2 linked regions of the Homo sapiens genome follow. The protein of the gene in region 2 interacts with the protein of the main gene of each other region in a pairwise test. Each region holds a gene or a part of one and is shown on either strand. Other genes may lie near its edges.

What was found. Proteins that work in one complex are often made in the same cells at the same time.
Region 1: the proteins of ACP1 (region 2) and FNBP1L interact in a two-hybrid assay, tested with the Homo sapiens proteins (one large-scale study listed by BioGRID and IntAct).

Annotation. Positions count from the first base shown.
Region 1 is NC_000001.11:93,531,618-93,535,117, forward strand, and holds part of FNBP1L (formin-binding protein 1-like), read left to right. Parts: intron 1-1,304; coding exon 1,305-1,451; intron 1,452-3,087; coding exon 3,088-3,291; intron 3,292-3,500. UniProt on the Homo sapiens protein: Required to coordinate membrane tubulation with reorganization of the actin cytoskeleton during endocytosis. May bind to lipids such as phosphatidylinositol 4,5-bisphosphate and phosphatidylserine and promote membrane invagination and the formation of tubules.
Region 2 is NC_000002.12:271,447-274,946, reverse strand, and holds part of ACP1 (low molecular weight phosphotyrosine protein phosphatase), read right to left. Parts: intron 3,082-3,500; coding exon 3,008-3,081; intron 2,911-3,007; coding exon 2,797-2,910; coding exon of another isoform or gene 2,642-2,796; exon of another isoform or gene 2,466-2,641; intron 1-2,465. UniProt on the Homo sapiens protein: Acts on tyrosine phosphorylated proteins, low-MW aryl phosphates and natural and synthetic acyl phosphates with differences in substrate specificity between isoform 1 and isoform 2.

The DNA of each region.
Region 1 (3,500 bases), on a different chromosome or scaffold from region 2:
ATAATGAACTGGAGTGGGGACCAGAATTCTGGTCATTGAATCCAGAGGGCCAAGCCTGCCAGTCTTCACTGTGATGCTTTTCTAGGCTTAGTAGTTAAGTCTTCATATTCTGGGGAAACTATAACTTGTGGAGATAAACTACCTTTTGTGTTTTGGGCCTGATACTTGGATTTGGACCTTTCTATGGAGCAATTCTGTGAAAATGCAGGTCTCAAAGTCCCAGGCTGTGGGAGTTTGGGGAGACAAGGAGTGTAACTGCTGTCAATGAAACAGCAAGGTCAGTGCTGGCAAATAGGATATGTCAAAAAAAAAATGCCTTTAAGTTATTGGACTTTATGTGTTCCAACATATTTCCTAGTGGCATGTGCCAGTGAATTTTCAGTTGTGAGGATTCTATATGTGCCACTTTGAGCTTGTGACTTCCTGTTTTTCCTCACGTATCCCCAGCTCTGAGGTGTACACTGCAGTAGGTCTGGGTACCTGTTGATAAACAACTAGTATGGACTGTTGGTCCAGCCAAGTCTTACCAAAGTATCCTGAATTAACTTGAGGTTAGAAGTCTCAGACTTGGCCGGGGGCAGTGGCTCACGCCTGTAATCCCAGCACTTTGGGAGGCCGAGGCAGGTGGATCACGAGGTCAAGAGATTGAGACCATCCTGGCCAACATGGTGAAACCCCATCGCTACTAAAAATACAAAAATTAGCTGGGCATGGTGGCACGTGCCTGTAGTCCCAGCTACTTGAGAGACCGAGGCAGGAGAATTGCTTGAACCTGGGAGGTGGAGGTTGCAGTGAGCCGAGATCGCGCAACTGCACTCCATCCAGCCTGGCGACAGAGCGAGACTCCGCCTCAAAAAAAAAAAAAAAAAAAAGTCTCAGTCTTGTATATGTTATGGGCCAGTTGCTTTAAAAAAAAAAAAAAGCACCAGAATTTTGTCATCAAATGAAATGTTTTCTGGAAGCATAAACAAGAACTACTCTGATTGAATAGTAAAAGGTGGGAGTGCTATGGGGCAGGGAGCTGATAGCCAGTAAGGGGTCCTTTTAGAAGGCTAGAATCCCAGTGTCATCTGGTTTTAGGAAAACAATACTAAGTGCCTTACTATTTTTTTTCTTTCTTTTGTTGTTTAGCATGTCCCAGGTTTTAAGTATTATAAGTCAATAGCACTTGTTAAAAGGTATTAACAACAGTGTAACTATGAGGGTAGAAATATTTAATTTTTGATGGGGGATCACTAATTGAACTCCTTTAGAATGATTGAAAAATTCAGTTTTCTCTTTTTAAAAAAATTCTTGATTATTAGCAACTACAAGAAATGGACGAACGAAGGACTATTAAACTCAGTGAGTGTTACAGAGGATTTGCTGACTCAGAACGCAAAGTTATTCCCATCATTTCAAAATGTTTGGAAGGAATGATTCTTGCAGCAAAATCAGTTGATGAAAGAAGAGTAAGTGCTAAATAATTATCTTTGAATGCATCTGTTTGGTTTAGGTGTGCAGTTTAAGTTAGTGAAATGAGTTGAGAAAGGGATAAAGTAATCTGATGTGTGGTTCTAAATTATATTCTGTAGAAGAATGTCTTGCAATAGATTCCTTTGAGTTCTGAGATTCATTCTACATGCAAAAGTTCTAATTCTTTCTTAAAAAAAAAAAAAAGATTTCTAACTCTCTTCTCCCACTAAGTTTTCAGTTCTTATCAAAGAGTCTAACCTAGGAACTGTGTGTTACAAATTGTGTTATACTATTATATTAGTTTAGTGAAAATTTAGAGAAGTATGTGGTTAGAGTTGCCTTTAGCACTTGAGCTGGATCAAGAAATGTGGGTAGCATATGGAGTGATGACCAATGAGGAGGAGGAAGGAGGGCATTATGTGCAGATGAAACAGCATAGCCCTCCTCCCCTTGAGGATAGGTAATCACATTGTATCTTGATTAAGGACTAGGGTCTTTTATCTCAGTAAATGTTGATTGAGTGATCAAAAAGCATGGTTGGCAGAAACTGAGGAAAGGCAGTGGCAAGAGAAGAGAACTGGTGTTTGCAGGATATCAGATATGTGTCACATATTTTAGTCTTCATGAACCTATCAAGTAGATATTATATTAGTGAGGATCCTTTCTGTTACAGCTAATAGAATTCTCACTTAAATTTAGAAAAGAGGATTTTTGGCTTTCAGCATGGCTGGATACAAGTTTATACAATATCATTACAGCCCTCTTCTCTCTAATTACCCTTTAGCAAATTATTGCTGAGGGTAGCATTACTGACAAAAGTAAGCTATGACTTAAGGATGACTTTTGACTAAATGAAGGGCAAAATGTACTGTTAACAGAAATAGGCAACAAAAGAGAGGTTGTTGTTAGGGGTGGGGAGGAATTTGTAGAGATACTCTGAAAATAATGAGTTTAAGGTATCACTAAAGCATTCAGGTAGAGGTATGTATGTCTAAAAACAATATTTATGTGAGTTTAAAAATTTTAAATACATGGTATTAAACTTTCAAATGTTGTTTGCACTCAGTAGTGTTTATGAGATCTTTTCCCTGTTGCTCTGTTAACATTCCACAGTATATATTTAATTTATTTATCTTTTCCCATGTTGGATGAGTTAGAAAGCCTTTCCTACTCATCTTTTACTCTCTTTTACAATTAGATGTTCTTTCCTCATTCCAAAGATTAGCTTCTTTGTTGACATCTATCTTTTAAAGCAAAAAGCCTTTTTCCTTTGAAACTTCTCAGAATTTCTACTTGTTAATAACCTCTTTCTGTATTCTTTTTGTCAGTTAGGTCTTTTTCAGCTAAGTAGTCTTCAGATGAATTTCAGGTGGTTAAAGCTACCAAGTAAAAACATTTTATGAATATTATAAATTAATTAAGTTGTAATTTGCAAGTATATTTTTCTTTTGGGATTAAAATACTTTGAGTTTGTTACACATTCATGGGAATAAATTATTTACCTTAATGATTATTGTGGAATTATTTATTTAAACTTATATTTGTTGTTTTTTTGTACTGAAAAAGTTATGAAAGCTGATGTAGAATTATGAGCAAGTGAAACAGTTTTAAAACCTAGTTTCTTTTGTATAGGACTCTCAAATGGTGGTAGACTCCTTCAAATCTGGTTTTGAACCTCCAGGAGACTTTCCATTTGAAGATTACAGTCAACATATATATAGAACCATTTCTGATGGGACTATCAGTGCATCCAAACAGGAGAGTGGGAAGATGGATGCCAAAACCACAGTAGGAAAGGCCAAGGGCAAATTGTGGCTCTTTGGAAAGAAGCCAAAGGTAAAAGTCATAAAATTCCTATATGCTAATCAGTTTAAGTGTACCAACTAAAACAATGTGGGTATTGAATGCAAAATGATTTACCATTAATGGAGAATAAATATTTTCAATTTGAATGATTCAGTTAACCTTTCACTTATATTAGGAATACCTTAACAGTAACAGTTATTTATGGATTTAACATTTGACTACCGCTTAATAATGGGTAA
Region 2 (3,500 bases):
TTTGTATTATAAAGTTCCATACAATAATCATAAAATAGTATAATGTGTAGACACAATGTTTATACATCGGCTTCAATTCCTTAGTAGCAGTGTATAATACAGTCAACATACTAAAATGTCACATATTTAATCCCCTTCATTATTCTACTCTATTTTTCATTCCACAAGCACTGAACATCCTGGGCCCCAGTAACAAACACCAAGCTAAGTGGACAGAGCCGCGTCCCATGGAGCTGCCCTTCCACATGGGGGCAGGCAACACACAGGAGGCACAGATGCCCTGGAGGAAATAAAGCAGAGAGGAGATACATACAGCTTTGGGGCAGGGAGGAGTAAAAGTATTAAGTTGGGTGGTCAGAGGTGGTCACTAAGAAAGAAACACAGGAGTGATAACTGACAGTCCTCCTTTATTTTGATTGACTATCCATAATTTAAACCTCACACAGAAGAGAATGCCACTCAGTATTTCTACTGATTGTAACCTGAAAGCTTATGATTGTTTTCTGATATAATCTATAAACACACCTACTTAAAATACAAATGAAAAGATTATTTTGTGAATTTCGACTACTATAAATAATGGCAGAATAAGAAACATAAACATACGTACTGCGGAACAAAGGTGGAAAGTGTATACCTGTTCTTCTAAAAAATGAGAAACTTTGGCTTTTAGTATGCACTTCCAGTAGCTAGAAAAGACTGTATTTCGTCAACACTCCCATGACATTGACTTATTTCAAAATTGAGAATAAGTACAATACTGAATTTTTTCTTTTTGTTTTTAGAGAAAAGGTCTCACTCTGTCACCAACACTGGGGTACAGTGGTGTGATCATAGCTCACTGCAGCCTCAACTTCTTGAGTTCAAGCCAACCTCCTACCTCAGCCTCCCAAACAGCTGGGACTACAGGCATATGTCATAGCACCCAGCTAATTTTTAAAATTTTTTTGGTAGAGATGGGTCTCACTATGTTGCTCAGGCTGGTCTTGACCTCCTAGGCTCAAGCAATGTTGAGCCTCCCAAAGTGTTATTAGGATTATAAGTGTGAGCCACCATGCCTGAACAGTATTATATTATTTCTCCAAATTAGTTATGTGAGAAATTCCCTAGGATTTAATACTAAACTTGTTTTAAATTCTGGACTAATTGTAAATTTTTCATAAAAAAAGACTTAGTAACTGTTACATAATTTTTAGATGTTACAATAATTGAGAAAGAAACAGCTATAACTTATGTAACAAATGCACAATAAAGGATTTCCACTTGCAGCTATAAATGAAACAGCTTGTGGCAAATCACCCCTACTACTAAAAACAACTAGAAACGCCATATAAAAAACCAGTGCTGCAGAGACAGTCGGGCTTTGTGGCCACCAGGCCGCTCTGGCTGTGCTGCTCTAGCACAAAAGCAGCCGCGAACTACAGGTGAATGAGTGAGTCTGGCTGTGTTCCAACAAACACTGTTCATAAAAAAGGTGCCTCAAAAAAAGGTGCAGGCCCCAATCTGCAGACTCCTGCCACTTGCCACTTCTCTTCCTGCTAAAACTGGAAAGTGATGAGACCTCAGAACAGGGATCTCAAACGGTTCAGTAGCAGAACTCTTGAACTCTGTAAAATTATTTAAATCCTATGTTATGGTTTGGATGTGTCCCCCAAAGTTCCTTTGTTGGAAACTTCATCCCCAATGCAACAATAGTGAGACGCAGGATCTTTATTAATGCCACTATCTTGGGAGTGGGCTCCTGACACTGATGGGTCCTCTCTCTCTCTCTCCTCTGTTTCCCTCTTCCCGTTTTTCTAGTTCTCGCTCTCACTCACTCTGGGGCACTCTCTTGACTCCTCCACCTTCTACCACAGGACGATGCAGCAAGAAGGACTTCACAGCCCCATGAGCCCCTTGGCTTTGGACTTCTCCAAATAAATGTATTTTCAACAATGGCCAGTAGAAACTGGCAAGGTATGCAAATCCTGAAGAGATGAGGATGGATAAATTGTATAAAAATGTTGAATCACCTGACCAATGAAGATTCCATTTCCGAAAAGGTCAGTCCCAGAGTACTTCATTTAAATAAAGAACTCTTAGAAAAATCAACTTTAGCTTCTAATTCATAATATAAAGACAAGGTTATCTTCAATTGAAATTGCAGAATTTGATTGTGACTTTATTAGACTCCAAACTTAAGTGTGGCCCAATAGACTATAATTATATATCCATAATGTTGCTGGTATTACCCTATATTACTAAGGCACTTTACAGTTGAAAAAATGTTTTTGTATATATTATATAACCTCATTCTAGCAACAAACTTGCAATATCAGCAGGATGATTACTATGGCCTAAATGTTTAATAAAAATTATGCAGGAAGGAACAGAAGACAGAGCACCGCTCAGCCCCAGCTCACAGTCAGGCTCTCTCATTATAAATTACCTAGCTTTTATGTGCATTTTAATAAGTAAATTCCAAAGTCAGGCAAGTCTTTCAACACCGTGCAACCAGAAGTGAAACAAAATGGACACACCATAGCTGGTTAAGCTCACCCTAAATAAACACATTCATTAATATACAAGTCTGGTTAATCCTTTCGCTACTTCTCAAGTTACTGGACTCTATATATTAGAAATTGAACAAGAGCTTGTCTACCTGTCTTGCTTTATGGGCTGTGTGAATGCCATGATTTCTTAGGCAGCTCACAGCTCTTGGGTCTGGGGACCGGCCCACGTTCCAGTCAGAAACAGCACCGCTGTCAATGACCCACTGAAACACAAAACACACAACTTCAAGTCCAAGGACGGTACCTGCCGGGCAACGTGGCTCATGGGAATGCCGTGCCTCTTCATGCAGCTCTGCCCTCGGTAGTCAGGGGGGTTCCCTATCTCATACCCGGAAGTTGCCGCGCTGTCTACCCTCCACTGCAGGGGAAGAAACATGGAATTTTTTTTTTTTTTTTGCAATTTCCTGCCCAGAGGAGTTCAGGTTGGCCTCTTTAAGATAATGAATGGTACTTACATTCTCTGAGATGTTTTGATCGGTTACAAGTTTCCTGAAAACTGCTTCTGCAATGGGTGATCGACAAATGTTACCTTTAAAAAAAGGGAGGGGTGGGGAAACAGGGTTAGGTTGGATGGAAGGGCACATGCCAGCTCCCCTTCTTTACACACCTGACACACGGGGGCTGTGCTATCCCTCAGGAAAAACAAAGGCCAACACTATCCTTTGACGCCTTTGTCCAACCAGTGAGGGTAGACCCTGCTGGAGAACAGCCTATCAGGCTCAAGTTCAGTGATTTGACACCAACCAGCCAAGTACTCCAAGTACAGATGACAAAGATATCAGAAAAACAATTTCAACAAAAATTATTGTTTAAAGAGTTGCTACTAATGATCCAGGAGTGAATCACGAAAATGAAGTGGGTTGCAACCAGCTTATTTTAAAATGAAATACAACAGAATAAAAATAAAATACAGTGGTCTGTCCCTCAGTAGACTCAGGAGCTGGTTCA